Linked DNA regions of Homo sapiens: region 1 is linked to region 2. The links come from fine-mapping of genetic effects on gene expression. A gene starts in region 2. The other region holds a variant in brackets. All regions are shown on one strand. Distances are between the middles of the regions. Region 1 has its middle 73 kb from the start of MIR378D2. Region 2 holds the start of CIBAR1 (CBY1 interacting BAR domain containing 1).

What was found. PIP is the estimated chance that this variant, and not a neighbour inherited with it, causes the effect.
Region 1: its variant is the best candidate, but not a certain one, in a credible set for the expression of CIBAR1 in blood mononuclear cells (TOPMed, PIP 0.62).

Annotation. Positions count from the first base shown.
Region 1 is chr8:93,835,384-93,851,724 of GRCh38, reverse strand. It overlaps the pseudogene MYL12AP1. Among named protein-coding and RNA genes, the nearest start is that of MIR378D2, 73 kb to the left of the region's middle. RefSeq lists an enhancer at 4,375-5,574. The variant C/A (reference allele first, on the strand shown) is at 8,204.
Region 2 is chr8:93,690,275-93,706,615 of GRCh38, reverse strand. CIBAR1 (CBY1 interacting BAR domain containing 1) reads right to left here and starts at 6,066. Exons shown (of 9, transcript NM_145269.5): 1 at 5,943-6,066; 2 at 5,158-5,392; 3 at 2,928-2,996; 4 at 1,606-1,707. The coding sequence starts at 5,968. CIBAR1-DT (CIBAR1 divergent transcript) reads left to right here and starts at 6,183. Exons shown (of 11, transcript NR_033858.1): 1 at 6,183-6,680. RefSeq lists silencers at 5,718-5,837, 6,028-6,167, 6,198-6,247 and enhancers at 5,814-6,438, 6,468-6,547.

The DNA.
Region 1 (16,341 bases), 150 kb before region 2:
GTAGAGACGGGGTTTCACTATGTTGGCCAGGTTGTTCTCACACACAATAAATTGTCCCAACACAATTTATTGAAGAGATTTTCCATTCCCCATTGTGTGTTCTTGGCACCTTTGTGGAAGATCGATTGACTATAAACACGTGGATTTATTAATATTTCTGGACTGTCTATTCTGTTTCATTGGACTCTGTGTCTATTTTTGTGCCAGTACCATGCTGCATTGATTACTATAGCTTTGTACTGTATTTTATTTTAAAATATATTTTACTGCTCCTTGTGAAGCAGGACTACCCCATAGGCAGCATGCCCAGAATAGCAGCCTGTGGTGTATTTTAAAGTCAGATAGTATGATTCCTCTATCTTTGTTCTTTTTGCTCAAGATTGCTTTGGCTATTTGGGGTCTTTTGTGGCTTTATATAAATTCTAGGATTTTTTTTCTATTTTTTGTGAACAAATGTCATTGGTATTTTGATAGAAATTGCATTGAATCTGTAGATCACTTTGGACAGTATAGACATTTTAAAAATATTAATTCTTCCTTTCCATAAACTTGGGATATCTTTCCATTTATTTGTGTCTTCCTCGATTTCTTTCATCAATGTTTTATAATTTTCAGCGTATAAGTCTTTTGCCCCCTTGGTTAAATTTATTCCTGTTTAAATTTTTTGGTAGCTATTGTAAATAGGATTTTAAAAAAATTTTAAAATTTTACCATAAAGTTTAATTATGGTTCAGAAAAAAATGAACAAATAACTTTCTCTGAAAAAATATATTGACACTGTATAGATCACAGTTATTAGTGGGGAGGGGCTGGTAGGTTTAATTACCCTGTTTTCTTTTTCTTTTTTTTTTTTTTTTTGAGACAGAGTCTTGCTCTGTCGCCCAGGCTAGAGTGCAGTGGCGCAATCTCAGCTCACTGCAACCTCTGCCTCCGAAGTTCAAGCAGTTCTCCTGCCTCAGCCTCCTGAGTAGCTGGGATTACAGGCCCATGCCACCACGCCCGGCTAATTTTTGTATTTTTAGTAGAGATGGGGTTTCACCATGTTGGTCAGGTTGGTCTTGAATTCCTGACCTTTGGATCCACCTGCCTTGGCCTCCCAAAGTGCTGGGATTACAGGCGTGAGCAACTATGCCTGGTTTCTTTCTTTTTTTTTTTTTTTTTTGAGACGGAGTCTCGCTCTGTTGCCCAGGCTGGAGTGCAGTGGCACAATTTTGGCTCACTGCAACCTCTACCTCCTGGGTTCAAGCGATTCTTCTGCCTCAGCCTCCCAAGTAGCTGGGATTACAGGTGTGCACCACCATGCTGGCTAATTTTTGTATTTTTAGTAGAGACCAGGTTTCACCATGTTGGTCAGGCTGGTCTTGAACTCCTGACCTCGTGATGCACCTGCCTTGGCTTCCCAGAGTGCTGGGATTATAGCCATGAGCCACCGTGCCTGGCCAATTACCCTATTTTCTATTCTGAAAATGATATTAATAGAAAGTCCCATTTCCAGTCTGAGTATAAAGATACAGGTGCCCCAAATGGCTGAGAATAAATACAACAGGAAATGCAAAAGCTGTAAAGCTAAGGGCATGCAAGAGAAAAATCTCAGAAATACCCCAAGTGGCAACAAGGAATGTTTGGCTGGAACTTGAAGTTCTTTCAGTCATCTTCGTCTTTTGCTCCATGTTTTAGGATGCATGTGAACTCAATATAATTGAAATTTCCCTTTTTGTCAATAGGATCTTCTCTATACAGCTCATCCACTTCCTCATCCATGAACCCATCCCCCCATGGTTGTCAGCAGCTCTCACAGGTAATCTTCCTGAATGGTGCCAGTTGCTTCTTCATCAAAGCAAGCAAAAGCATGTCTGATGACATCTTCAGGATCTGTGCCATTTAACTTCTCACCAAACATGGTGAGGAACACGGTGAAACTGATTGGGCCTGGAGCCTCATTCATCATGGCATCCAGATACCAATCAGTTGGACTCTTCCCGGATGAAGCAAGCATATCCTGCAAATCTTCCTTGTCGATGAAACCATCTCTGTTCTGATCAATCATGTTGAAGGCCTCTTTGAACTCCTGAATCTGTGACTGATCAAACACAGCAAACATATTGGATGTCGTGTGCTGAGGGCACTTCTTGGTGGTCTTGGTGTTTGCTCTTTTGCTTGACATGGTGGTTAAATCCCAGCACAGCTACGAGAATCCAAGCACGTCAGCGAGCCCCTCGCTGCCGCTATCTGTAAATAGGATTTTTAAAAATTTCTTTTTCAGATACTGCATTGTACTACATAGAAACTCTACTGATTTTTGTATTTTGAATTTCTATCCTGTAATTTTACTGAATTTGTTTATTAATTCTAACATTTTTCTGGTGAAGGACTTAGGGTTTTCTATATATAAGATCATGTTGTCTGCAGAGACAACTTAAGTTCTTCTGTTCTAATTTGGATGCCTTTTATTTTTTCTCTCACCTAACTGTTCTGGCTAGGACTTCCAGTACTATGTTGGACAGAAATGGTGAGAAATCGAGTATCCTTTTCTTGTTCCTCCACTGAGTGTGATGTTAGCTGTGAGTTTGTCACATATGGCCTTTATTGTATCGGGGTACATTCTTTCTATATCTAATTTGTTGAGAGTTTATATTATGAAAGAATGTTGAATTTTGTCCAATGTTTTTTCTTCATCTATTGTGATAATCATATGATTTTTGTCCTTAATTCTTTAAATATGACGTATCACATTTGCTGATTTGTGTATGTTGAACCATTCCTGCATCCCTGGGATAAATCCCATTTGATTATAGTGAATGATTCTTACGATGTACTGTTGAGCTCGGTTTGCTAGTATTTTGTTGAGGATTTTTGCATCTATGTTTATCAGGAACATTGGCCTATAATTTTCTTTCCTGATAGTGTCCTTGTCTGGCTTTGGTATCAGGGTAATGCTGGCCTTGCAAAATGAGTTTGAAGTATTCCCTCTTCTTCAATTTTTTTGAAAGAGTTTGAGAAACATTAAGTATTAGTTCTTCAAATGTTCTTCTTTATATGAAATTGAGTTTGCTTTTTGAAGAGATTAACAAAATTGACAAACCTTTAACTAGACTAAGAAAAAAAGAGAAAGACTCTCTCTTTAAAGAAGACTTTCTCTAAATAAATGAAAGAGGGGATATTACAACTGATACCATAGAAATACCGAGGATCATAAGAGATTACTCTGAACAAATTATATGACAACAATTGGATAAGCTAGAAGAAATGGATAAATTCCTCAACACATATAACCTACCAAGACTGAATCATGAAGAAATAAAACATATGGCCAGGCGCAGTGGCTCATGCCTATAATCCCAGCATTTTGGGAGGCCGAGGTGAGTGGATCACTAGAGGTTAGGAGTTCAAGACCAGCCTGACCAACACGTTGAAAGCCCATCTCATCTAAAAATACAAAATTAGCTGGTGTGGTGAAGCATGCCTGTAATCCCAGCTACTCAGGAGACTGAGGCGGGAGAATTGCTTGAACGTGGGAGGCGGAGGTTGCAGTGAGCTGAGATCCCGCCACTGCACTCTAGCCTGGGCAACAAGAGTGAAACTCCGTCTCAAAAAAAAAAAAAAAACAAGAGAGAGGTGAGAGAGAATATATGAACAAATCAATAACCAGTAAAGAGATTGAAACGGTAATAAAAAAAGTCTCTCATCAAATGAAAGTCCAGGATCTGATAGCTTCATTGTTGAGTTCTATAAATCACTTACTCTTACCATTTGATATTTTCCTTTAAAGTGACTCCCTTTTAAGCATTATAACTATTTTATAAGAAAACTGTGTATCATTTGATAACTGGGCAATCTGTTTCACCTGCTATACATAGATGAAAAATAAAAATAAAAGTAAGGAGAATAAAATGTAATTAAGTTCGAGGTAGATAAAATTGTCTGCTGATGATGCTCAGCCTGAAACTTGTCTCATTAAAAAGAGCTTGGAAAAATGTCATTAAGTTGAAACTTTCTCCTTGACAAAAGGATTCAAAGAGAATTGAAACAGGGTGACTTTTCTGTTATATGTGAGTCATATAATAAATTCTGGAATAATTAATTCTGTTATTAATGAATACATTCTGCATTCACATAGCACCTATAATTACCTCGGGAACCATGGTGTTCTACTTAACATACTCCATAAAATACCATGCTGCAGGCACAATTGGAGAACTGCTTGTTTTATGGATATTTTTGCAATGGCTGTCTAATCAGAATGATTATAGATCAAAATACATTAAGGATAGAATTCTGGCATTAAAAAATCTGTATAAAATGGGGAAGAAAAGAAAAAGACAACTTTCTTTTGATATGCCCCCAAAAGGAAACATCTACCAAGACCTTCTTTTACTGAGTTTAAAGCTCTTTACAAATTACTAAGTAGTCAAGTCTGATGCTGATTACAAACCAATACACATTGTTTCAGTGCTCTCTTCAAGCAGAAGAAGCAAAAACACTGAGTGCAATTAAAAAGGTGACAAGAAAGAGATGGAAGACAAATCATGAAGAGGCACGAAACTGATGTGTGCTTCCTCAAGCATTACTCTATAATGAGAAAACATTTGCTGGAACAAGCCTTATACTCTCCACAAAATGCAGACTTGGCACTCATTCCATTTCTTTTTTGGAGGCTGAAAATGTCTTTGTCTACTGGTGCTGTTTAAAAGTTGTCTAATCAACATCATCATAATGCTCTGTCCCTCCTGCGAAAGCCAGCTGGGATCTCTGTTTCTATCAGGGAGCAAGTTTTAATACAGCCACTTTCCTTTCAACATATTGGCTGGGAAATCTCCCCTGCTGGGAAGTAAAAAGCTTTAATTTTGTGAATCATCAAAGCTTTTTCTTATACATGGTGTAGAATAACCTTTCCTTTTCAGAAAGTCTAATCCAATAGCCTCCCAGACCTCAGGATGTCACCAAATGGCATGTGCGTGCAAGAAGAACAAAGGAGGAAGCCATTCAAAGCCCAGCTGCATATTGCATAACACCTTGAATTAGAAAATCCACGACCCACAAAACGCTTACCTACTTTGTGCGGTTTAAATAAAGCAGAGTGCTACTCCTCTTTAAAGAACTGCTTTACAGTTATCTTCCTGTCAGAATTCCAATTATTCTATGACTCAGTGGGTAAGTGTTTAGCTTTTTGAAAACTTTTTTTGGGGTAAGAATGTGAACAAGTTTTTATAAGTTTGTAAAGGAAAAGTTTATATAATAATGCTCAGCTGCATCAAATACAAATATATTTTATTTCATTATTTGAAATAAAATATTTTCTTAATGTTTTAAGAATTGGATTTTATCTATAAAATTGATGAACATTTTCTTTGGTACATCTGAAAAACATAGTAATTCCCTCCTATCTAGGAATTAACTGATATTTGTGACAGGGTTGGGAGTATTCAATATGCACCTCTCTCAGACCTTGGGACTAAGGTTTCCATATAAGAAGAATCCCAGGCTGAAAATTTTTATGTACCAGGGATTCATTTTTCCTAATTTTTACAAAACCTGTGCACGGGCACTTTTTGTTTCATCTGTACCAAAGACTAGCTGCTGCTCACTTTCTCCACTTCCATTTAGCTCTGGGGACACAGCTAGATACTTCTCAACTCCCCTTGCAGATAAGCATGGCTCTGTGGCTCATTCTGGCCGAGGGAACTTACACAGAAGTGATGCGCCCACCTTCAGCCTGGCCCATAGAAACCTCTCCCTTGCCAGTCTTCTCGTCCACAATCTACTCGCTGAGTGGCAAAGGATCCAGGCAAAGAAGTAGAGGCTCTAAAAGGGTACCCAAGTCACAAAATGAACCATCACATGCCAATCATAAATATCCACAACGTTGAACTTTGAGTGAGAGATAAATTTTTATTGTGTTAGATCACTGATATGTTAGAGTGCTATTGTTTTTGTTTTTAAAGTAGCTCTTAATATGATCACCCGATGTCCTTGCTTCTTTCTTTTGGCCTCCCTCTGCTCTTTTTTCTTGCTCCTATTATCTTTCCTTATCATATGATTAGGTGTTTCTGATTTAATACCTTAGTGGATTTAGGATTAAACCCTCAACGGTGTTGAAATAATAAGCAGACTCAATTGATTTAATTCGGAGAAAAGGTTTCACCAATTCGACTTCTTAAAAAGCTTACAAGTTAAATATTTGAGATAACTTTTATTAAACAACTGCTTGAGTGGATGAGCATTTATCTAGTTTAGAGATCACATAAGAATCATGGTAATTGGGACAAACGTGGTGATCTCAGCATGAATGACCCAGCAGATGTGTACAAGACAAGCCTCTGCTGATAAGAAGGAAAACTAATGTGCATGAACTTTGAAGGAGAGACTTGGAAACTCAGCCAACTGTCTTTATTTGAATGGCTCTGCAGCTTCTGGTGGGCACATATAGACATTGAAATACAGGGTCAGACATCCGTAAGAGCAGGCCAGGATGAGTGTTAGTACCGCGAATAACTGGGTGAAGTTTCCAAAATCATTAAAGTTTCAAAAAAGCTCTTCACAAACAATCTAAAACTAAAATTCCAGTCTGATTTTGCATGAGCTGCTTTCTTTCAGACTCCATTTAGTGGTTAACTCACCCTCTTCTGTTCTTCATGTAGGTGGTTCTCAAACTGGGCTCAGTTAAACCTGTTCAGAGGCTGTCTCAAGAAGTGGGCTCCAGGCAATTCACTCTGGATTTAACCAGAAAAGCTTCATTTTGAGCTGTTTTGCAAACTGGGTTTTAGCATAAGCATTTATTTTGTGTGTGAGTGGAAAGGTTCCTTGGCTTTAAAGAGCTACAAACCATTGCTTCATGTCTTACCTGGACATCACATCCACTGTCAGAGGTTTAGTCTCACAAATGCCCAGTGATGTCCAAATCTGAATCTATGGCACATTTCTTTTCTGAGCACCCCCCTCATAGTCCCACTCACATTTCACATCTCCGCTTACTGGATGTCTCATAGACACCTCGTCACAATATTCCTGAAATAGAACGTATTATCCTACCTACTCTTCTTCCTTAATTAATGACATCACCATTCACCCGATTACTCAACATAAAACTCTGAATCATTCTGACCCCCTTTCCTCTCTCTCTCTCTATATCCAATCTGTCATTAGGTTCTGTTTTGTAAAGCGTCCTAAATATCCTTTAAATGTGTCCTTTCTCTCCGCCCTCACTGTCACTGCCTTGGCGTAGGCCCTTGTCATCATCCTTCATCTGGATCATTAAAATAGTCTCCAGATGGCTCTCATATCACTCTGCTTCGTGGCTGCCCTGAGGGTTTATATAAAATACAGTAGAACGCATAACAGTTAACATTTACGTTTAGCTTTGTAGTCAACCGATGCTTTCATGTACATTGTCGTATTTAAGTCTCACAACATTTCAAAAGACATTGTTATTATTCTTAATTCAGAACAGGAAAATGATGCCTAAGAAAATTGAACAAGGAGTCTCACCAAGTCATAGGACTGTGATTTGAACTCAGATCCAAAGACTCTAAAGTTTACTCTGATGACATTAAGCTATACCTCCAAACAGGCATCACCATGCCTAAAAGAGAAAGTGCAGAACTTGTAGTCTGAGAAAGCCTCTTTATAGTCATGCCCCACAGAGCATATTTAGTAGTTAATAATAGAGCTGTGGAGTTAGAACTCACATTATAGTGTGAAACCTTAGAGAAATTATGTAAACTCTCTAATCTGCAAAGTTTCTTAGTTTCTTAATCTGTGAAGTGCAGCTAATAATAGAGTTTATCCTACAAGGTTGTTGTGGGGCTTAAATAAGGTCGTGAGTGTGAAGCCCTTCACACTTGGCCTGTCCCGGAGAAAGTGCTCAATGAATGTTGGTTGTTGGTACCGATTTACCAGCCTCATCCTGCACCATTTCCTTTCTGTCTTCCACCCTTCAAACAGACCAGACCATATTCTCTGCTACTTCTTCTTTGAAGCCTCAAAAATTCAGGTTGATGACTCCCCGACCACTTTATACCACCCCTACAGTTAGATACTTGGTTGGTGAGTATAGCCTTTAAGTCAGCAGTGGATTGTTTCCTGGGGTTGGTCAATAGGGCCTTGAGAAAGTCCCCCACACAACAGAATGTTCTTCCCACAAACTCTCGCTGGCCTCCTGCTTTAGGCTTCCCATTTCCTTGCTCTGCCTCTCCCCCATCCCCTG[C/A]CATTTCTGACTTCAGATGTGTCCCCTAGGCTTGCCCTGGCTCCACTTTCCAGCCAGCTGCCTGGCCCCAGCGTCGTGGCAGCTATCTGACCTCAGCTCCACACCAGTGCTGTGCTTCTGGGCAAGGCTTTGGCATCTTGGTCCTACTGTCTCTGGCATCTGACCTCAGTCTGTCCTGTTTCTAGCTTTCCTGGAGCTGACAACTCCCAGAGACCAATCAACAATGGTTCAGATGGGACGATAATAGCTCTTATCACACTGTTTCGTGTTATTTCTTTGTCTTTCTCGTCCATTAGGCTAAACCCTTCCAGGACAGAAAGACCTTGTCTTTGATCTTAGTAGATCCTTCATAGCATCAGGTTTAGAATAAGTGAGTGCTTGTTGATTGAATAGACTATTCTTTCTCCACATAGAGGCATCTGATAGCACAATCTTCTGAAACTGCTGTTGTACAACCACATTCAGATTAATGGGAGGTACATACAACTGTGGTCATATGTGAAGTTTTTTTCCCCACCAGAATAATATAAAAAAAACACCCCTAAAATAGTCTTAAAAAATTATTTTCCTGCCAGGCGCAGAGGCTCACACCTGTAATCCTAGCACTTTGGGAGGCCAAGGCAGGCGGATCACCTGAGGTCAGGAGTTCAAGATCAGCCTGGCTAACATGGTGAAACCCCGTCTCTACTGAACATACAAAATTAGCTGGGCATGGTGGCGCATGCCTGTAATCCCAGCTACTCAGGAGGCTGAGGCAGAAGAATTGCTTGAACCTGGGAGGTGGAGGTTGCAGTGAGCCACAATCGCGCCACCACACTCCCACCTGGGAAATGGAGTGAGACTCTGTCTCCAAAAAAAAAAAAAAAAAAAAAAATTTCCATTATATGCTGACAAGTTTCTACAAATTCGACTATGTCATCAATTGTCCTCATTAATTTAGTTTCATTCTATACATTTTCTTTGTTAACCCTTTGCTTTTCATCAAGCACTTTGTTGATATTAATCTCTTACTTCTGTACATAGAGTCCTTGAAAGGAGTTTTATCTTTGTGTTTTCTTGCTGCACCTTGTTGAGTAACTTTTTCCAAGTACAGTACATGCTACATAATATTGTTTAAATTGAAATATACAGAAATTTTTGCAGCTACAAAATAACCTCATTTTGTGTTTGATTAAACTATCACAGCTTTCATTAAGATACATTTTTGTTTAACCACTAGACCTTTTATTTATTTATTTATTTATTTATTTATTTATTTATTTATTGAGATGGAGTCTCACTCTGTCACCAGGCTGGAGTGCAGTGGCATAATCTCGGCTCACTGTGACTTCTGCCTGCTGGGTTCAAGCGATTCTCTTGCCTCAGCCTCCTGAGTAGCTGGGATTACAGGCATGCACCACCACGCCCAGCAAATTTTTGTATTTTTAGTAGAGACAGGGTTTCACCATGTTGGCCAGGATGGTCTTGATCTCTTGACCTCATAATCTGCCCGCCTTGGCCTCCCAAAGTTCTGGGATTACAGGCATGTGCCACCACGCCCGACCTATTTTTATTTTTATTTTTTATTTTATTATTATTTTTCTGAGACAGAGTTTCGCTCTTTTTGCCCATGCTGGAGTGCAATGGCACGATCTTGGCTCACCGCAATCTCCGCCTGTCAGGTTCAAGCAATTCTCCTGCCTCAGCCTCCCGAGTAGCTAGGATTACAAGCATGCACCACCACGCCTGGCTAATTTTGCATTTTTTAGTAGAGACAGGGTTTCTCCACGTTGGCCAGGCTGGTCTCGAACTCCCGACCTCAGGTGATCCGCCTGCCTTAGCTTCCCAAAGTGCTGAGATTACAGGCGTGAGCTACCGCGCCCAGCCTTATCTTTTTAAATCTGTAAAACAGTAAGGTTGCTTAGATGAGCACTTTCTTTTCAACTCCACCGCCTGTAGTGTGTGGTTGTGAGATGTGACTAAAAACTCTGCTGTCTTCTTGTCTCAGGTGATCTTAGAATTAATAGAGGAAATTTTAAAATTCTATTGGTTTACTAAAAAGAAAAATGTACTTTGAAATTATTAGTTTTTAAAAGAAATAAGCTTTAGAAAAATGCAAATTCATGCAACAACAAGATACCACTTTTTAATCTATTACCTAAAAACATATGGGTTAGGGAAATGCACATTAATGAAAAGAGATACCACAAATTGCCTACCAAAAATATGATTATCCCTGGTGTTGGGAGGCATTATTGTACACCACTGGTGGGAATGTAACTTGGTGCAATTTTCATGGAAGACAATTTGACAGTATGTATGCACCAGACTTAAAAATGCATATAACAGCTGGGTGCGGTGGGTCATGCCTATAATTCCAGCACTTTGGGAGGCTGAGGTGGGCAGATCACTTGAGGTCAGGAGTCTGAGACAAGCCTGGCCAATATGGTGAAACCCTGTCTCTACTAAAAATACAAAAATTAGCCAGAAATCGCTTGAACCCAGGAGACGGAGGTTGTAGTGAATCAAGATCGTGCCATTGCACTCCAGCCTGGGTAACAGAGTGAAAGTCCGTCTCAAAAAAAAAAAGAAAAAAGTATATAACCACCCATCTGACAATGGGTTAATAACCAGAATATACAAGGAGCTCAAACAACCCTAAAGGAAAAAAATCTAATAATCTGATCAAAATATGGACAAAATATTTGAATAGACATTTCTCAAAAGAAGACATACAAATGGCAAACAGGCATATGAAAAGCTGCTCAAGTCTGGGCACATGCCTGTAATCCCAGCACTTTGGGAGGCCAAGGTGGGTGGATCACCTGAGGTCGGGAGTTTGAGACCAGCCTGACCAACATGGAGAAACCCTGTCTCTACTAAAAATACAAAAAAATTTAACTGGGCTTGGTAGCACATGCCTGTAATCCCAGCTACTCGGGAGGCTGAGACAGGAGAATCATTTGAACACAGGAGGCGGAGGTTGCAGTGAGCTGGGATCATGCCATTGCACTCCAGCCTGAGCAACAAGAGCAAAATTCCATCTCACAAATAAAATAAATAAATAAATAGAAAAGCTGCTCAATATCATTGACCATTAGAGAAATGCAAATCAAAACTACAATGAGATGTCATCATTGATAGCAATGAGATATCAGCTAAAATGGCTTTTATCCAAAAGATAGGCAGTAAGAAATGCTGGTGAGGATGTGGAGAAAAGGGATCCCTGTACGCTCTTAGTGGAAGTGTAAATTTGTACAACTACTATGAAGAACAACTTGGAAGTTCCTCAAAAAACTAAAAGTTGAGCTACCATTATGATCCAGCAATCCTACTGCTGGGTATATACTCAAAAGAAAGAATATCAGTATATTGGTGAGATATCTGCACTTCTATGTTGCAGCACTGTTTACAATAGCTAAGATTTGGAAGCAAACTAAGTGTCCACTGACAGATGAATGGATAAAGAAAATGTGGTACATATACACAATGGAGTACTATTCAGCCATAAAAAAGAATGAGACCCAGTCATTTGCAACAACATGGATGTAACTGAAGATCATTATGTTAAATGAAATAAGCCAGGCACAGAAAGGCAAACATCACATGTTCTCACTTATTTGTGGGATCTAAAAATCAGAACAATTAAACTCCTGGACTAGAGAGTAGCAGGATTGTTACCAGAGGCTGGGAAGGGGAGTGGGGGCTGGAAGGGAGTTGGGGATGGTTAATAGGTACAAATAAATAGTTAGAAAGAATGAATAAGACCTACTATTAGATAGCGCAGTAGGGTGACTGTCGTCAATAATAGCTTAATTGTACATTTTAAAATAACTTAGAGTATAATTGGGTTGTTTGTAACTCAAGGGATAAATGCTTGGGGGATGGATACCCCATTCTCCACGATGTGCTTATTTCACATTGCATGCCTGTGTCAAAACATCTCATGTACTCCATAAACATATACACCTACTGTGTACACACAAAATTTAAAAAATAAAAAGTAAAATTGTTCTCATTAAAACAAAATAAATAAATAAAAATGCATATAACCTTTAAGCCAGAACTTACTCTTTTAGAATGTTCTCCTAAAACCATCATTGAAAATAGATGCAAAGCTTTAGCTAAATGGTGGTTCGCAGCATTTTAATTAGAAAAGAAAAGCTCTTTGAATGCTTGCAAACTGAATGAAGTACCATTTCCCAAACAAGCAAGGACAGATATTTGAGCCTACTGCTCTGTAAAAATTGTGTGGCTGGACACACAATAGAGAAGAAACATGTAATCACTCCTCTCTGAGGCTGAACCATTGGCGGGAGGGAGGTAAAGGCCACTTTTCTTTATCCCTTCCCCAGCTCCATTTCAGGACAAACCAGAGGAAACTGAGCATCTTGCAAGCTGAGCAGTAAAAAGCTAGAAGGTAGAAAAGGAAGAAAGGAGGCCAGGTCAAACCTACTCCCAGACCCCATCTGAAGGGGCAGGTTCCAGAACACCAAGAAGACTGGGGGCAAGGAAAGCTCTCTTGTGTCACCTTGTAATCCCCATGTGTGTATAAATCAAATAGAAAGGCTCCCTTCTGCTCATAGGCTGTACTGATGGTTAGGATTTATTTTAAAGTTTATGACAGAAAATAATTTAAAGGTCCAACAATGGAAGATGGATAGAAAAAAATGCTTATAGAAGATTTTACTAACATGAAATTATATTTACAATATATAGATGAGTGAAAAAAGCAGGTTACAAAAAATGTATGCAAAGTTATCTCATTTCTGTAAAAAACAATACATACACACATATATATGTACAGCCACAAACAGAAAAAAATATGGAATGGTGATATGGTTTCAATCTGTGTCACTACCCAAATCTTATGTAGAACTGTAATCCCCAGTGTGGGAAGTGAGGCCTGGTGGGAGGTGATTGGATCATGGGGGTGATTTCTCATGAATCATTTAGCACCATCCTCTTGGTGCTGTGCTCGTGACAGTGAGTGAGTTCTCATGAGATCTGGTTGTTTTTAAAAGAGTGTAGCACCTTTCTTCTTCCCTCCTGCTCCTACTCTGGCCACCTGCTTCCTCTTTCCCTTCCACTGTGATTGTAAGTTTCCTGAAGCCTCCCTGCTTTCTGTACAGCCTGCAGAACCATGAGCCAATTAAACCTCTTTTCTTTATAAATTACCCAGTCTCAGGTATTTATTTATAGCAGTGTGAGAACAGACTAATACTAATAGTATACTTTGAGGTGTTAACAGAACTCTAGGTACTGGGGCTAGATTCAGTAGCTAATAAGACAGACAAGACCCCTACTCATGGTGCTTTTATTCTCATAGGGAAATAGATAACATAAACAATAAGCTAATAAATAAATATATAATATATGATACATATTGTTGTCAGTTCTGGGGATACAACTTTGTGAACACACTAGGCAGTTATGGTCCCTGTCCTAACAAGTTTTCTTGTCTGCTATGAATAGGGAAGTGAGGAGGCTGTGGGGACCTAGAAAAGGGACACCTGACCTGGTCATGAGGGATCCGGGAAGGCTTCCCGAGGAGGGAAGTCCAGGCTAACAGCCAAAAGATGAGTAAGGAGTAAGGCAGTTGCAATAAGAGAGAGCTTTCCAGAGAGAGACCAGGGTAGGTTTTCAGACCTCAAGGAGAGAGGGAAGGAAGGAGGGCAGACAGACACACGGACTGGCTGAATGACCAACTGCTTTATTACAGGAATTCATTCTGGTATCTGTGGCACTTAGGGTTTGAGCATGGATGGAGCAATGAGGAGTAAAGAAGCCCGGGAAGTAGGTCATGAAGCCATGTTAAAGAGGGCTTGGCCTTGACCTTGAGTGATCTCTCAAAGGTCATTACGAGTAGTTCAAGGGCTCAGTAAATGAACTTAGCCCTAGTGTGTACTTCTTTAGGAAGGAACCATTTTTTAAATAATAGTATCTTTAAAACCCATTTGTGAAGAATATTTAATTACAGGGAGATATACTTATGCTGTGGTGCTTAAAGAGCAGGCTACAAAACAATGTGTATAGTATACATGGTAACCCCCTTATGGAAAAAAGTATAAATATGTTATATGTTATTTATAATGCAAAGAAAATGTCTTAGGGAAATATGCTAAAACCAAATGTAATCTGTGGTTACCTCTAATGATGGAATTACAGGTAGTTTTTGTTTTCTTTGGTTTTCCGTGGTTTTCAAAATTTCTACAATGAAATGAATATATACTCTTTTTATAATCAGAAAAAAATACTTAAGTGTGCTTTAGGGACAGAGAGCAGTGCCCTAAGGGTTATACATCACCAAGTGTCCTTGCCTATAGGCAGTTATTCAGGGGATAAAAATAGGCTCAACACTGAAGTCTGTCCAGGCATGGTAGCACATGCCCGTAGTCCCAGCTACTTTGGAGGCTGAGGTGGGAGGATCGCTTGATCCTGGGAGGTCAAGGCTGCAGTGAGCTGTGATTGTACCACTGCACTCAATCCTGGGCATGGGCAACAGAGCGAGACCCTATTTCAAACAAACCAAAACAAATAACAAAAAACACTGAAGTCTGGATGGGACTCCAGGACTCAACATTTTTTACTTGCATGAGATTTTACTCACATTTTTCTGGAACAGTTTGAATTGTAGTGTGAACTGCACTAAAGGAAGCGCTATTTTTTGACAGCATGACATAAATTTCTCTATTGGCAGATAGGTTTCACCAGTACAATCAATATGTATGCACATATTTTTGCATGCCTAAGCATGTCATTTGTATATGCTTTAAACTTTTAAGTCCTGTTTCTAAGAATTCTGTGCCACATTCGTCGTACTTGACAAGCCAGGTGAACCACCTAAATTAGATCATTTCTCCATTAAACTATTCTCAGCCTGGCTATGGCTGTCCTGAGGAGACTTTAGCGCTAGCTCTCCACTGAGGGGCTTGCCAGTGACCTTGGACCTACCACAAAACTGCTTTGGGCTCCAATTTTCTGAATCACAAATGAGCGAGGTAAGCTACGATTGCTAAGGTTGCCTAAATTCTATGATTTCGGGACTTATTTCCCATCGTAAAACTTGACAACATCCTAAAAACAGAGTGAAGACCCAACCCTCTTTGAATACTAATAATTTTCATTTCATTTGTTGACTAAAGAAAAAGCATCAGGCATTTTTTTTTTTTTTTTTTTAGATGGAGTCTCGCTCCGTTGCCAGGCTGGAGTGCAGTGGCATGATCTCGGCTCACTGCAACCTCCAACTCCAGGGTTCAAGCAATTCTTCTGCCTCAGCCTCCTGAGTAGCTGGGACTACAGGCGCGTGCCACCACGCCCGGCTAATTTTTACATTTTTAGTGGAGATGGGGTTTCACCGTGTTGCCCAGGCCGGTCTCGAACTCCTGAGCTCAGGCAATCTGCCCGTCTCAGCCTATCAAAGTGCCGGGATTACAGGCATGAGCCACTGTGCTCAGCCAACCATCACGCTTTTAAAGAATTAAGGCTAGCTTTATTTAGAAGTCTTCCTGAGGACTATGGACCAAGGTCTAGAGCCTGGGAGCAGTCTCGGCTCTGGTACAGTTTTTCATCTCACTGCTTATATACAGGTGATGGGGGTTCAGTACATGCAAAATCACATCAAACTTCCTCAGAAGTTACATTAAAGCAGAATCACATCAAGGTTTGGGTGTAAGAGTACATCTGGTTAAAAATTACAGAGGCATAATCACTAACCCCATCTGACATTATCTTATGTGTAGGACAAGGCAAGGACCAGGTCATTTATCTTTTAAGCAGTATAGTGACTCAGGCAAGAGATGTGGGGGGCCTATGTGCTCTCTCCTGTTTTGTCTTCAAAGCATCTTTCCAGAGAGCTGCCTGTCCCACAGAGTCAGTGACTTTTTGAAATTGTGGTGCCAGGAAGAAATGAAGAAATACGGCTTCTTATGTTTGCTACTTTGTCCCACATATTTTACAAGTTTTACAGAAATTGATCAAGTGCTATTTTATTATATTTAATTTTATTAATTTTTTATTTATTTATTTTTTGAGACAGAGTTTTGCTCTATCGCCCGGGCTGGAGTGCAGTGGCGCCATCTTGGCTCACTGCAACCTCTGCCTCCCAGGTTCAAGCAATTCTCCTGCCTCAGCCTCCCAAGTAGCTGGGATTACAGGCG
Region 2 (16,341 bases):
AAAATGTTTGTCTTAGGAATAGATTCATTTCTGTGTTTACTGTAGACACCAGTACTCCTGATTCAATCTTGCCAACTACTCAGGATTCCAGATGTCTTCATGTATCACCACCTCCCCAACTCCAGGCCACAAAGAACAAAACAAAACAAAAAATTTTCATCCCTAGCTTAATTCTTAAACACTGGTGAACCCCCCCACCCACCCTGCCCCATAGCCTCTGCCTTGATCTCTAGTTATCAGTCATAAATTTTCCAGCATTCTCTGGTTTGTCTGACTTGCTTAAAACACAGATTCTATAATCTCCATTTGCGGATCTTATGCCACTATGACTATCTAGATATTTCTGTCCCAGTCTCCAGTGGGCACTCCCAGCCCTATGGCTGCCCATTTTTGTTTAGTACAAAGTTGGGCTTCTGTACCTTTGGTCCAAAGGAAGAAGGACCAAGCAACTGGCGCAGCCCCAAATCGCTGCTCAAGAGACTCCCCTCAGGAATGGAGGTGTTCTGGAACCTCAAATGCTCTCAAAGAGCCACTCCTCATGTGGTTTCTGGCTGAGCTGGGCAGTAACAACCTTAAGGAAGCAGGAAGGAGACATATAGAAGAAGGAATGGGAAAAAGAGGCAGTAGGGATGTTAGTGCTTTCTTTCTCTTTTTCTTTTTTTTTTTTTGAGATAGTCTCGCTTTGTTTTCCAGGCTGGAGTGCAGTGGTGTGATCTCAGCTCACCACAACCTCCATCTCCCACGTTCAAGCGATTCTCTTGCCTCAGCCTCCCAAGTAGCTGGGACTACAGGTGTGTACTACCATGCCTGGCTAATTTTTGTATTTTTAGTAAAGACAGGGTTTCACTATGTTGGCCAGGCTGGTCTCGAACTCCTGACCTCATGATCTGCCTGCCTCGGCCTCCCAAAGTGCTGGAATTACAGGCACGAGCCAACACGCCCAGCCAGATGTTAGTGCTTTCTACACAGTCCTACCCATCTCAGTTGCTGGCAATTAGGCACTATTTTGTATGCTTTTGTTTACTCACGAACAAGGCACATTGTAGTTTAAGAAAGTCATGTTTAACAGAAGAACCTTGTTATAGTAGACAGTCCTTTCTAGGTTTGTGTCCAACTTGGATCTTAATTATACTCTTAAGACTCCTGAGGTTAACTGGCTGGAAGTCATGATGTCACATAGTTGTTTTATTTCTAAAAGATGAAGGAAATTAAATGGGAAAATTTTCTTTCCTTTTCTCAAAGCAGGGCATAGAGGACACTGATATATTAGGATTAACAATAGATCTTTAATTGTAGAATTAATATTTAGTCATCACCATGTGAAAATAAAATTCAGAAATTTGAATTTACTGTTTATAAAAACATCTGAATTTTTTGTTTGTTCGTTTGCAAAGTCTACTGTGTAAAACAATATAAGGGGATTTGAATTAGGTGGCGTAACCTCTTTAAAATTTCTATAGTGAGAATTCCTAAATGCATTTCTTTTCAATCTTTATATTCAAATTCTCTACTCGTTTAAAAGTAAAAATGCACAATTTCTATATACATTTACTTTTGTACTCCATACCTTAAACATTTTTTTAAAGACCCAAATTCAAAGGATACAATAACATGTCGATCAGATGGGTTTCGCTGACGTGTTCTTTCTAACTGAGTTAATTGCTTAGCTTCTCGATTCCTTGCTGTGAGTGTTGCTTTGAGGTCATCCTGCAAATTGGCATTTTTTTGTTAGTAAAAATGTCTGACTTAAGAAAATTCAGTTTTAAGAATGGAAGAATTCTTTTAAGAATTGTTTTAAGAATGGAAGAATACTTCTTGTGTGATCCTGGTACCATTACCACAGGAATTACAAGTATTACATAATTAGTGTCTATGTATGTGAGAATGTGTTTAATATTCTCTCAAAATAATGACACAATTTCAGTGCAAAACTATTAACCATAATAGATATATGCATATAAATGTGTAATTTTGATTGCGGTAGTGGTTACATGGGTATAAACATTTGTCCAAAACTCAATGATCACTTAAAATGGAAGAATTTTATCGCACATAAATCAAGGGCTCCCAACCCCCAGGCCTATTAGGAACTGGGCCAGCACAGCAGGTGAGTGGTGGGCGAGCTAGCATTAAGGCCTGAGCTCTGCCTCTTGTTAGATCAGAGGCAGCATCAGATTCTCATAGGAGTGCAAACCCTATTGTGAACTAAAGAAAAATTGTCTTCCACAAAACCGGTCCCTGGTGCCAAAATGGTTGGGGACTGCTGATGTAAATTATCAATAAAGTAACTTTTAAAAATAGAACTCTCTCACACATTTTAAAAGTCTAAATGCTATCGCTTTAAAGAAAAACTTATATTCATATAGTAAAGCAATTTCTGTCCATATATTTTTCATAATTATTTTAAAGTTTCCATAATAATGTCTATATTGCTACAGTATACTTAATAAGCTCATTAAAACTATTTCATTATTCTTAAAGATCTAAGTGATCTTTCAGAGTAAAAAGAATGACTATATACTACTTTGTATTTCTTTTCTTTTTTTTTTTTTGAGACAGAGTCTCACACTGTCGCCTGTGCTGGAGTGCAGTGGCGCTATCTCAGCTCACTGCAACCTCTGCCTCCTGGGTTCAAGCGATTTTCTTGCCTCGGCCTCCTGAGTAGCTGGGATTACAGGTGCATGCCACCATGCCCAGCTAATTTTTTTTATTTTTAGTAGAGACGGGGTTTCACTATGTTGGCCAGGCTGGTCTCAAACTCCTGACCTCGTGATCCGCCCGCCTCGACCTCCCAAAGTGTTGGGATTACAGGCATGAGCCACCACTCTTGGCCACTACTTTGTATTTCTTATTTAAAAAAACAATTGGAAACCTCATAGTCTTTGCCAGAGTAACTCACAGTTAAGTGAGAAAATGGATTTACTTACCCGTTTCATTTTCACAATGGTCCCATAAGTTTTCAAGGGTTCAACTACTTTGGCTTCAAGTCTTTCAACCTATTGAAAATTATTAAAATTTTAAATTAGAACGTTTAACATTTTAACCTATAAATAAAAGGCTAATCACTAGAAATTGATAAGACTCAGAATCTAAACTCAAAACACATTAAAAACTGTTAAGCTGCACAGTAATAGTAAAAGTAGAAAAGCACCTGGTGAGCAAAATGACAAGAAAATGTCTCAGGTTTCCCAGGAGCTCATCCTGGCCACATCATCATCTTAGGATTACTTTTTTACCTTAAAGTAGTAGTTTAAGGGTGTTAAGACAGTTCAAATTTTAATACAGCTAACATTTTCAGTGTGTTCAGCACAGTAATGGATACTTTGCATATATTATCTCTGAACTGTAATAGCTCAACTTTTCAGAAAAGAAAATCAAAGCTGAAAGACAGAGCATCTTGGAAACATTTAAAGCAACATAACCTTGAAAAGCAAAAAAGCTTAGAGATCACTGTATTTGCTGCATTTTTTTTTCTGAGAAGCCATTTGTGAATTATCGAAGCCTACAGAACAAGATAAATGGTCTGAGTTGCTGAGCTGTCAAACTGTATGTTTCATCTCTGTTTCATTTAGAATTAAATAGTTTTTCTTAAACGTTACAGGTTTTTAAATCACATTTTGAGTAATTACTTCTTTTACAAGTAGTACTAGTGGAAGGCACTGAAGAGAGATTTTTTTTAAGGCAAGTATTTAAATATAGCATAAGAAAAATAACTCTTGGACATTAAAATTTTTTTTCTCAAGATAGGTGATGTATTCAATTGCTTAAAATGAACATTTTTTAATAGCAGGAAAAGGGCTTTTTAATGATACATATTTATATAATTGACAAATACACTTAATTTCATATTGATTTTTCTTTAGTTTCTGTAAATGAAATGTATATGAATGTTTCATTTTAAAACATGTTAGGAAAATAAAAATCGACTTCTCATCAAGTATTCAAATATTAGGAATCCTAAAATCATGGATATTCAGGACAGTTTGCTTTACACCATTTCTTATAATCCATACTGATTATTCAGTTTAAGGATTATCTAAGTCTTTTTTCTGTTCTCCTTTTTGTTGCCTACCTTTTTGTCATTGTTCATTAGGACCTCCACCATTTGGTAAGCAAGGGAAATAAAAGGAGAACAAATGCAAATCAATTCACTTTGCTATTTGATAAATAGCACAAAGGTTTTCTACAAAGGGGCATTGAAATTATTGGCTAAAATAAGATTTTAGGATTACCTGTGAATATAAATTATCTTTGAAACATTAAGTCCCCAGTTATCATATATAATTGAGAGTTACTTGTTTATTACAGAAGTTTCATGACAAGAACTCCACATTTTTCCAAAAGTACCTCCAAATATGATTACTCTTCAAATTTGTATGGATAGCAATGATGAGTTCAATTTTTTTTATACTCATTCTGTTTTTTGAAAATTGAAATTCCCGTTTTAGGTTCTGAAAAGTATAAAAAAGCAACGCAGTTCTAACTGGGCAACTTCTGATAAGTTAACCTATGCCGTGAAACTGAAAATAAATACAAGTAAAAGTGCTTATTAAGTATTTAAAGGAAAAATATGGGCTTTTAGAAAGAAAACAATCACAAGGACACTTCTCCTGCTACCCAGAGCAAAAAGTCCACACGGTGTCTCAGTATTGGTTTGCTTCCATGATACAATTCATAGCATTTTGTTGTTGTTAGTAAACCATTGGTCAATTTTCCAAACCATGGATGCAGCAATGATGTCTTACCCATTTATTAATAATTTATCCATCCACATTACCATTCCCAACATTTCCATCTCCAGTCATTCTTTAAAACGTACTTATGTGCCACACAAGACATTAAGTTATGCTTATTTTCTTCCCCCTGGGTACTATTCCCACTACCCCCAGTAAACAGCCACCCCTTGGCCAAAAGTTGGCAAATAAAGTGGGGAAATTCAAGACCTCAAGATGCCCTAAAGGTTAGCTTGAAAAGGGTAAAATAAAACACAGAACGCTTCTCTTTAATAGACTCACACAGTCTTATGAAAATGTACGTTTTATCAAGTTTGCATCCACCTCTGCAGTTAGGTAGATTACAAGTGAAAGTTTCCACGGTTCCTTCATCCACTACTTCATGGCTCATTCATAACAATGACACTGTGATCTCACTCCATACCTCTGCTTGTCGATAATCCTGAAGTTTGGCAAACTCATCTGCAAAGTTCATCAGGCCCAGCTTTAAATGCGGGGTCTCTGTAGCAGCATACGCGTTAATTTCATTCACCAGGAGGTCTGCTTTGTCTCTCAGCCTGGCAGTTTTCCGCACATAGGCAGCGAAGATTTGGCACAGTTCTCCAAAATGCTTCTCCACATTTGAGACAGCTGTTTGCAGTTGTTTCGTTTGAGCGTTCCTAGGGAAAAGGTGACACAAAAGGCAAAACATTCTCGTTAGAGATGAGAAGGCTTCACGTTAATTTAACATGCAAACATTCCCCGGGCATTCTGCAGCTTTGAAGGCGTAAACCCATCAACGACCCAGCGTCTCCCGGCGCGGACTGCTCTCCATGGGGTCCTGACCTCACTATCCGGACTGTGTAGGCACAGGAAAAGGCCCAGGCCGGGTGGGCCTGGCCTTAACTGGGGAGGTGGCTGCTCCGGCTGCTCCGCGCAGCGCGGCCTGGGCGCCCGGCTGCCTCCTAGGCTTCCGCACTGCCCGCGGCAGTGTGGGGACCCGAGACCCGGTGGCGTGGGTGGGTGGCAGCCGGCCGGGCCCCGGGCTCCTCTTCGCCGCCGGCGGTGGCTGCAGCCCAAGGAATTAGGCCCCAGGTCACAGCGGGGACCGTGCAGCCTCCCACTCAGGGTCGGAATTCGGCGCAGAGGCCCCATGGACAGAGGCTTCCACTTCCCTCACCCCAGCCCTCCAGTGTGGGCGGCCCTGGGCAGCTGGGCTCGGGCTGTTACCGGTTTTCCAGGGTGCGCCTCATCATGCTGCCTCGCGCACGGCCGGGGACCTTGCGGGGGCCCAAGGACGGGGATTCCAAGGCGCCTGGGCGCGCGCTGGGGCGCAAGCAGCCGCCGGGAGCCTGAAAGCCCGCCCCTCGCGCCGCCGCGGCAGGCCGGGCGTTTCTATGGAAACGGGGCGCGCGCCCCCGCGGTCAATGCCCGAGGCAGCCTGAGCGCGGCTGGGGCTCGGAAAGCGCCAAGCAGGCAGGGACCGAGAGGGGTGATGGCGCGCCCACCCCTGCAGAGCCGCCTGCGCGGTTGTCCCGCGCGTCCCTGCCGGCGAAGGCTGTGAGAAGCACCGCGGGGCTACGGCGCCTCCATCCTCTCTAACAGCCGCGCTTACCAGACAGCCAGCCTCCAGCGCTGCTAGGCTACTCCGAGCAGGGGAGAAAAGACGCCGGTCCGCCGGGGACCAGGAGGGAGACGTGAAACCAGAGGCCCGGGGGCCCCCTCTCCGCCTGTGCGACTTGTAGTCTCGTACCAGACGCGTCCGCTTCACTGCTGAATCTGAAAACGTGGGCTCTTGAGAGCTGCCCTTGGAAGGAGCTGTGCTTTCTGCCTCATCTTTAACTTTTCGTTTATTCAGCAAATATGTATCAAGTTCCGACTTCGTGGAAGAGATTGTGTTAGACACTGGGAGTAATAGAAACATAATTAAGAAGCAGGGGTCCCGGACCTGAAGGGCCTGAGCGTCGGGTAAGGAGGCAACGCTTACACCGAACCTGTGCTGAGATAAATAACGAACAGTTCTGGCTCTTAGAGTTGGCCTGGGGGAACAAAAATTCAAAAAGAATAAAACCCCAAACAAACAGGAGGCTCTCCTTTGTCCTTTGAACGCCTCTGTCCCTTTGACCCTCCTGGCCTTGCGTGTGCTGCTTTTCCCAGTAAATACTGCAAGGACTCTATTCAGACTTTGTTTATTTATATATGTATTTTAGATGGAGTCTCGCTCTGTTGCCCAGGCTGGAGTGTAGTGGCACAATCTCGGCTCACTGCAACCTCCGCCTCCTGGGTTCAAGCGATTCTCCTGCCTCAGGCTCTCAAATAGCTGGGATTACAGGCGTGCACCACTATGCTGGCCTGATTTTTTGTATTTTTAGTAGAGACGGGGTTTCGCCATGTTGGCCAGGCTGGTCTTGAACTCTTGGCCTCAAGTGATCCGCCCCCCTTCAGCCTCCCAAAGTGCTGGGATTCCAGGCGTGAGCCACCGGGCCCGGCCTCAATTCAGACTTTATCTGCTTCAAGAAACCTCTCTGGGATCCTCCGTCACTTCACTTTTTCAGGCAGCGTTAGGGCCTTGTCCTAACGCTTTGGGACGGGGTCCTAATACTGTCTGAAGGAGCGAAGTGTTGGAATGCTCAAACAGTACACTTCGTTGATTTTGTACTGCCTCCTGTACCCTAGACTTTGAACCCTTTGAGACAGATTAAATGTGATTTTGGTCTTGTATTCCTCGCTGCCGTGTGCTGCTGATTAAAAGTTTTTATTTTGTACAAATAGATGTCCTCAGTCCTTTGTTTTGAACTTCCCCTATTCGCTTGTGTTACAATGTGTATCTCTCTTTGCTCCTTGCATTCGCTCAGCATGTTATTGGTTGGATGCCTGGTGTGTTCCAGGTATTATGCTTGGCTTTGAGGTTGGCACAGTAACCTAAGGTCAGAATAGTCTGTGCTTTTAGAGAGCTCACAGTTATGTGGCAGTGATAGAAGCTAATCAAAGATGTGTAAAATTGCCACTGAGGTATGTGCTACTGTATCCACTTTTGCAGTGTAACAAATCACCACAAAACTTAGTGACGTTTTACAATCGTTTGGTTAGCTTGGGATTCTGAGTGAGCTGGGTGGTTCTTTTACCTTGGTTCTGCTCAGCTGGGCTCTTACTCACCTTTCTGGTCAGCTGGCGGCTGGATGATCTAAGAGGCCTCACTTCTGTGTCACGGCATTGGCAGGTCGTCAGCAGGGGCCACGTGTTTCTTATTGTCTAGCACCTCAGCCAGGCTTCTTTCCATGGTTTCAGAGTTCCAAAACAGTGGAGCAGGACAAGTCAACTGCACAAGTGCCTTTCAAGTCTCTGCCTATGTTATGTTTGCTGATACACTATTGGCGGATGCAAGCCATGTGGCCTAGACTAGAGGGATCAGAGTGAGAGGGCAGTGGAAATGTTACGGATGGTGTGGTTGGTAGAGGAATTGGTGGCTACTTTTCCAGTCTACTATTAGGGGAAACTACATGGCAGCAATTGAGTGTATACTTAATATAGAGGTTTGGTTTGAACTCATCAGGGAAGGACTTCATTGAGAAAGTGACATTTGAGCTGAGATCCAAAGAATAGGAAGGAGTCAACTAGGTGAAGAGGGAGTGAAAAACAGTCCCAAGAGAAGGACAGTATGAGCAGTTTGTCCCCTTGCCCTCCCCCAGCCCCATTCCCATCTCTACCCAGAATTTCATATCTCAGAAAATGATGCTATTGCCCAGTTGATTGTTCAAGTCAAAAACTTAGGAGTTACCCTTTCTTTTCTCCAGTCACATGGGCAATTCCTATCTGTTCCATCTCCAAAATATATCCTGAATCATTCTTCATTTTTTTCTACATCCCCATAATCCAAACTGCTACCACCAATCATCCTTACTGCAAACCTCCCTTACTAGTCTCCCCATGTCCACTGTTAAACATCGCAGTGTGAAATCAAACATTAAATCAGATGATGTCAACCCTCCAAAGCCTCTCAGTGTGCTTCAAATAAAAATTTAAATCCTATTCTGGCTATTAAGGCTTTATCTCATTTCCGCTTACCTATCTACCTTCTCTTGCTGCCCCACTGTGCTATAGACACATGCCATATGTGTGTGTGTGTGTGTGTGTGTGTGTATATATATATACACACACACACACACACATATATATGTATATAAGCTTCTCTCTCTCTCTCTGTGTTTATCTATAGATAAACTTATCTCACAGTTAGTTCTGTGTTTGTAATTCTCTCTGCCTGGAATGCTCCTTCTTCAAGTCCTCACATGGATGGCCCCTTCATATAAAATTGTACTTAAAAAACACCTATGAGTGGGGCTTTCTCTGATCACCAAATGATTCTTTCACCCTGTTTTGTTTCCTTTGAAGCACATGTCACGTCCTGAAATTAACCTGTTTATTTACATGCTATTTCTGTCTTCTCCCATCCACGTACTAACCGGGCTGGACCTCACTTAGCTTCCAAGATCAGGCATGTTCAGGTATGGCTGTAGATCTATTTCTGTCTTCTGTGACTAGAACATATTCTCCATGAAACTAGCCACATTGTTACCTGTTCACTTTATATTCCCAGTACAACCTCAGTGCTTGACTCATAGTAGAAATTCAATAATTAGTTGAGTTTATCAATGAATAAATAAATAAATGAGTGAAAACCCCATGACAGAGGAAACACAGTATGTGTGAGGACATGGAAGAAAGCTGATGAGGGTGGAGTGGAGGAGGTGGCATCATGTTCTGTCTGAGATTTAGTTGGAGGGGTAGATGGAAACCAGGTCGTATAGGGCATTTTGGCCATGCTAAGGAGTGTAGAGATTGGTTCTTGTATTAGTCAAGGTTCTTTAGAGAAACAGAACTAATAGTCTGTGTTTGTAAATATAATATAATATAATATAATATAATATAATATAATATAATATATAATATATTGTATAATTTTATTATAAGGAATTGGCTGAAGTAATTATGTAGGCCGAGAAGTCCCAGAATCTGCAGTTCACAAGCTGGAGACCCAGGAGAGCCAATATGTCATTTCAGTTCAAGTCCAAAGGCTGGAGAACCAGAAGAGCTGATGGTTTATTTCCTGTCTGAAAGCAAACAGGGTGGAGACCCAAGGAAAACAGATGACTGAGTCCTACTGGGAAGGCTAGAAAAGATGACGTCCCAAGTCAATCAGTCTGGTGGGAGCAGTTTCCTCCTACTGAGACTTTTTTCCTATTCAGGCCTTCGATTGACTGGATGAGGCCTGCCCACATTAGGGAGGGCACTCTCCTTTATGCAAATTTTAGTCTCATCCGTAAACACCCTCACAGACATGCGGAATTATGTTTGGTGGAATGCCTAATGACACATAAAATTAACCATTACAATCATTGTCTTTGTATCAATGTGAAGCTATTGATGTGTTAAAGCAAGTTATTTATTGTGTAGCTCTTTTTTTTTTTTTTTTTTGAGGTGGAGTTTCGCTCTTGTTGCCCAGGCTAGAGTGCAATGACGTGATCTCAGCTCACTGCAACCTCCGCCTCCCGGGTGTATAGACCGGGTTTCTCCATGTTGGTCAGGCTGATCAGAAACTCCCGACCTCAGGTGATCTGCCCGCCTCAGCCTCCCAAAGTGCTGGGATCTATTGTGTAACTCTTAAAGCTGTTAGCAAATGCTTGGTAAATGGTATCATAATTGTTGAACAGAAGCATATTGAATTATCCCTCTTCAATCTGTACTCAATATATGGAAATGAAAGTGCTCAAGGAAATTTCCTCCTAAGATACGGGCTCTTGATTTTACTCTTCTGTCAACAGATATCTAAAAAACATGCATTAACACAATTGTTCTCAAATCTTTTTACTACTTGGAGGCATGTTCTTTCTTATAGGCTATACTTTTTCCAAGGACACATTATCTCATCAAAGAGGAGCTGGTGGCCTGGGAGGACAAGTGCCTTGGCCAGAATTGCATGATTAGATAGCAGAGGTGGAACTGAATCTTTGTCTTCTTTCTTCAATGTTCTTTCCAGAGTACCAGGATCTCTTTCTCTCTTAAAAGTGATTTTTTTTTTTTTTTTTTTTTCAAATCAAAGCCACAATGCAATACCACCTTATTCCTGCAAGAATGGCCATAATCAAAAAATCAAAAAATAATAGATGTTGGCATGGATGTGGTGAAAAGGGAACACTTTTACATTCTTGGTGGAAATGTAAATTAGTACAACCACTATGGAAAACAGTGTGGAGATTCCTTAAAGAACTAGAGGTAGCTCTACCACTTGATCCAGCAATCCCACTCCTGGGTATCTACCCAGAGGAAAAGAAGTCATTATACAAAAAAGATATTTGTACATGCATGTTTATAGCAGCACAATTCACAATTGCAAAAATATGGAACCAGCCCAAATGTACATCAATCAATGAGTGGATAAAGAAAATGTGTATATATACCATGGAATATGAGTGGATTATACTCAGCCATAGAAAGGAACATAATAATGGCATTTGTAGCAACCTGGATGGAATTGGAGACCATTATTCTAAGTGAAGTAACTCAGCAATAGAAATCCAAACATCAGATGTTCTCACAAGTAGGAGCTAAGCTATGAGGTCACAAAGGCATAATAATGATACAATGGACTTTGGGGACTCGGGGGTAAATTGGGAGGGGGAGACGAAGAATAAAAGACTACACATTGGGCACAGTGTACACTGCTCAGGTGATGGGTGCACCAAAATCTTAGAAATCACCACTAAAGAACTTATGTAACCAAACACCACCTGCTCTCCAAACACCTATTGAAATAGAAAATTAAATAAAATACAAAAAAGTGATTTTTTGCAAAGATTGTAAACAAGTTGAAACATTTTAATGTCATTCCATATTTGGAAGAAGGAGGGTGTGTGTCATAGGATCCATCTATCGCTGAGTATAGCATTTCAAAATCTCGAAATTATTGTTTCAGGTTATAAGCATTATAGGGTCTCACTTTTCTGAACTACTATGTGATATTTGTATATTTATTGTGAAAACAGCACAATATTATTTCGTGTAACGTTGAATGAACTCCAATTTATTTAGCATGTTTTAAGGGGGGCCTAGTGGAGGCGGAGAGTTGCATTAGCTTTATTTAAGTATTCAGCATTACTTGCGGAGAACTTGCCACGTACTAGGTGCTGAATTTAACATTCCTGAACTCAAGTGCTCAGAGCAATGCGGAAAGAGACACTGTAGAGGCAACTGGCTAATTTTGTTGAAGTCTTTTCCAGTCTCATTTCATCAGGAATTTAGAGATGATAATGTAGTTTAAACTAGATTATTTTAATTTAAAGTATATTATTATTTTGCTAATTGGAGTTTCCTCCTTCCCTTCTTCAGTTCTGTTTTAGAAATGAAGATGTTAAGTGACCAATCATGGTATATTGTATTTATTTGTTAAAAGTAGATTTGTGCCTAACAATATCACTCCAAATGCAGCTGTTCCATGTTAAGTAGCTTAAACAAATTGTTTTCATGATGATACATACAAATCAAACTTTTTTTTTTTCCAGCAAAGGATTGAGTGTGTGTTTATTTACATGCTTTTAAAAGGTTCAGCATTTGAGGAATGTCGGGACTCCCTCTAGCGGTAAATTTAATACTTAAAGTTGCTTGGTCAAGCACTGGAAGACAAAGGGAATAGAATGAAACTGCCCTGGACTGCTATCTCTTTTATGACCAGTTTTTAACTAGAAATCACCTATTACTGGTCTTCTTCTTAGTATAATAGGGAGAGAGTACAATTAAGTAATTAAGTACATGGGCTTTGATGGGCTCTGATGTCTAATATCTGGATTTAAAGTCTGGCTCCACTGCTCTCTCAAGCATTAGCAAGAATTACTTGCAGGACATGTTGAAACACAGTTTTCTAGGCCCCAGCCCCGGAGTTTCTCATTTAGGAGGTCTGAGGTGAGGATCAAGAATATGCCTTTATAACAAATTCTCAGGTGTTACTGAACCTGCTGGTCTCTACCACACTTTGGGAACCAGTGGCCTAGACTCCTGGAGTGCCTCACATTCCTCAGGGGTTAGCTCTGAGGTTGTGAAGATTAAGCAGAGTACTAGATGTTAAGTGCTTAGTATGGTACCTGAAATAGTAAGTGGTCCACAAAGGTTAGTGCCTACTAATACCATAGATTTGTCAGTGTTTCTCTAACTTGGAGAATTCAAAAAGGGAGAACTTTGTAATAATATTGTTGAGCTAATATTGTTAGCTAAGTAAATAAACACACACTCAATATTTTGCTGGAAAAAAAGTTTGATTTGTATGTATCAGCGTCTTATCATTAAGGTCTATGTGCCTAATACTACATAAGCACCGTTAATATACCTATTAGCATCAGTCTAATTATTAATACATTCATCTTTTTGTGAATTGATTTGAAAAATTGATACAACACAAAAGAAAAAACACACATGGGAGGGTATGTTAAGGAGACATAGGAGTCAATTAAAAGAGCTCTGGATGGCCAAAGCTCCAACAATTTGAGCAAGAAAATAAAGTAGTAATGGATTATAACCCAAAGTAAAAAATTAAATATTCTTGAGTCCATGCTGAGAGTAAATTAATGAATGAATGGAGAAGAAGAGACAAATCTCCCACAGAATAATTCCAAATAATTTATGTAGCTACTCCATCCTCAAGGAGGTGGAGTAAAAGTCCTGTCTCCTTAAGTGTGGGCTGCACGTAGTGACCTCTTTCCAAAGAGGACAGTATGGAAGGAAGAAAAAAAAGTAATTTTCCCATGGAGAAACATGACAAACACTACCTCAGCCAGGTGATCAAGGTCAGTATCAACAGCTATGGGTTATGTTCCTAGTATGTACCCTTTTTATGACATGATGAAAATGGTATCTTACACCTGTGGTTTTCCACCTCCGAATCCATGACCCCAGTGTAATTTTGAGAAAATGACAGATAAATTCCAATAGGGGGAGATTTTACAAAATACTTGACTAGTACACCTCAAAACTGTCAAGGTCATCAAAAACAAGGATAATTTGAGAGACCATTATAGTTAAGAGGAACCTAAGGAGACATAAACTTCTACTAAGTGTAATGTGGCAACCCAGAACAGAAAATGGGCATCACGTAAAACTAAAGAAATCTGAATAAAATATGGGGAAAAATAAAGCAAAGCCTTTTTTCTTATAATTAATTAATTATTTTCGAGACAGGGTCTCATTCCATCACCCAGGCTGGAGTGTAGTGGCACGGTCATGGCTCATTGCAGCCTCGACCTCCTGGCCCCAAGTGATCCTCCCACCTCAACCCTCCAAGTACCTAGGACCACAGGCAAGTGCCACCACGCCTGGCTAATTTTTTTTTTAATTTTTTAATTTTTTTGAGACAGAGTCTTACTCTGTTGCCCAGGTCAGAGTGCAGCGGCACAATCTCAGCTCACTGTGACCTCTGCCTCCTGGGTTCAAGCGATTCTTGTGCCTCAGCTTCCTGAGTAGCTGAGACTACAGGTGCACCCCACCATGCCTGGCTAATTTTTGTATTTTTAGTAGAGACAGGATTTCACCATGTTGGCCAGGCTGGTCTCGAACTCTTGACCTCAGGTGATCTGCCCACCTCGGCCTCCCAAAGCGCTGGGATTACAGATGTGAGCCACCATGTCTGGCAATTTAAAAAAATTTTCATAGAGCTGATATCTCCCTATGTTGCCCAGGCTGATCTCAAACTCCGCAGCTCAAGTGATCCTCCTGTGTCGGCCTCCCAGATTGTTGGGATTATAGGTGTGAGCTACAGCACCTAGCCTTTTTGTCTTTTAGAAAAAATATTGATACATGATCATTATTAGAAATTTCATTAATACTGAGAAGCATAATATAGGAAAAAACACCAGTGTTTTCATTATAAAATGTTAATATTAGGTGAACATTTTTCTAGATCTATCTATTTATCCGGAAGGTAAAGGTAGAACTTATATATGCGTAAGTTATATATATGTTATATATGTGTATTTATAATGAGAAGAACATATAAATACATAAAAGACAAAAAGCTTTGCTTTTTTATTTCTCCATATTTTATTCAAATTTGCATATATATGGAAATCTGAATACAATTCAGATAAAATTCTGATAAGATATATCCTCCCATGAAGATCACTTGAGCCCAGGAGTTTGAGACCAACCTAGGCAGCATAGGGAAATCTCAGCTCTACAAAAATAAAAAAACTTAGCCAGGTGTGGTGGCACTTGCGTGTTTTCCTAGCTACTTGGAGGGCTGAGGTGGGAGGATCACTTGGGCCCAGGAGGTCAAGGCTGCAATGAGCCATGATTGTGCAGTAAGATATATATAAGTTACATATACATATGTATACATATATAACACATATAGATATGTTATATATATGTTACACACGTCTCTTCCTGTCTACATATATATAACATATCTATATAACTTATATCTATATAAGTTATATAGTTATATATGTATATATAAGTTATATAGTTACAGTTATATATAGGTTATACAGGTTATATAGTTACATGTAGAGTAGACAGGAAGATCTTATAAAAATAGGATTATAAAAATATAATTTTTGTGTTTGATTTCTAAGTTTACTTTGGGGTTTTAAAATGTTTTCACAATATGAAATACATCCAACATACAGAAAATAACAGACACCTATACATTCACTGGGAAGATTTTACTAAATTTATTTCAGAATTTTAGTAATCAAAAGTTCTCATGATAAAAAGTACTCTTCAGACCAGTGGATTTTTTCTCATGATGATCACTATCTTCAAGATGGTGTGTATTCTTTCCATGTCTACTTTTATACTTTCCTTTATATGTATGTATGTATTCATGATATATACATATATGTTTGTTTTTAAACTTTATATAATTGGTATAATATTTAATATACCTTTTTGAAATTTACTTTCTTAACACAACATTAGATCTTAGAGATTGATCCATGTTGTTACATTTAGTATTGTATAGATTTCTATCCTATGAATAATTCACAATGGTTGCTTTCTTCTGATGGATATCAGTTGTTTCCAATTTTTTCTATTGCCAAATATGCTGCAATGCATATGAAATTGATTTTCTCTACAGGATCTACATAGAAATGGCTTGTCTGTTGTTTGCAATAAGTTTTGCAGAACAGGAGTTTTCTTTTCTTTTTCTTTTTTTTTTGAGACGCAGTTTCACTCTTTTTGCCCAGGCTGGAGTGCAATGGTACCATCTCAGCTCACTGCAACTTCTGCCTCCCAGTTTCAAGTGATTCTCCTGCCTCAGCCTCCCGAGTAGCTGGGATTACAGGTGCACGCCACCACACCCGGCTAATTTTTTTTTTTTCAGTAGCGAAGGGTTTCGCCATGTTGGCCAGGCTGGTCTCGAACTCCTGACCTCAGGTGATCCACCTGCCTCGGCCTCCCAAAGTGCTGGGATTACAGGTGTAAGCCACCGCACCCGGCCTAGGAGTTTTCAATTTTGGATTTTCAATCTAGCTGGAAATTTATTTTTGTATATCCTGTGAGGTAAGCATCTAACTTTATCTTTTTCCATATGGGTAGCCATTTGTGCCAAATTTGTTTATTGAATTTATTCCCATACCAA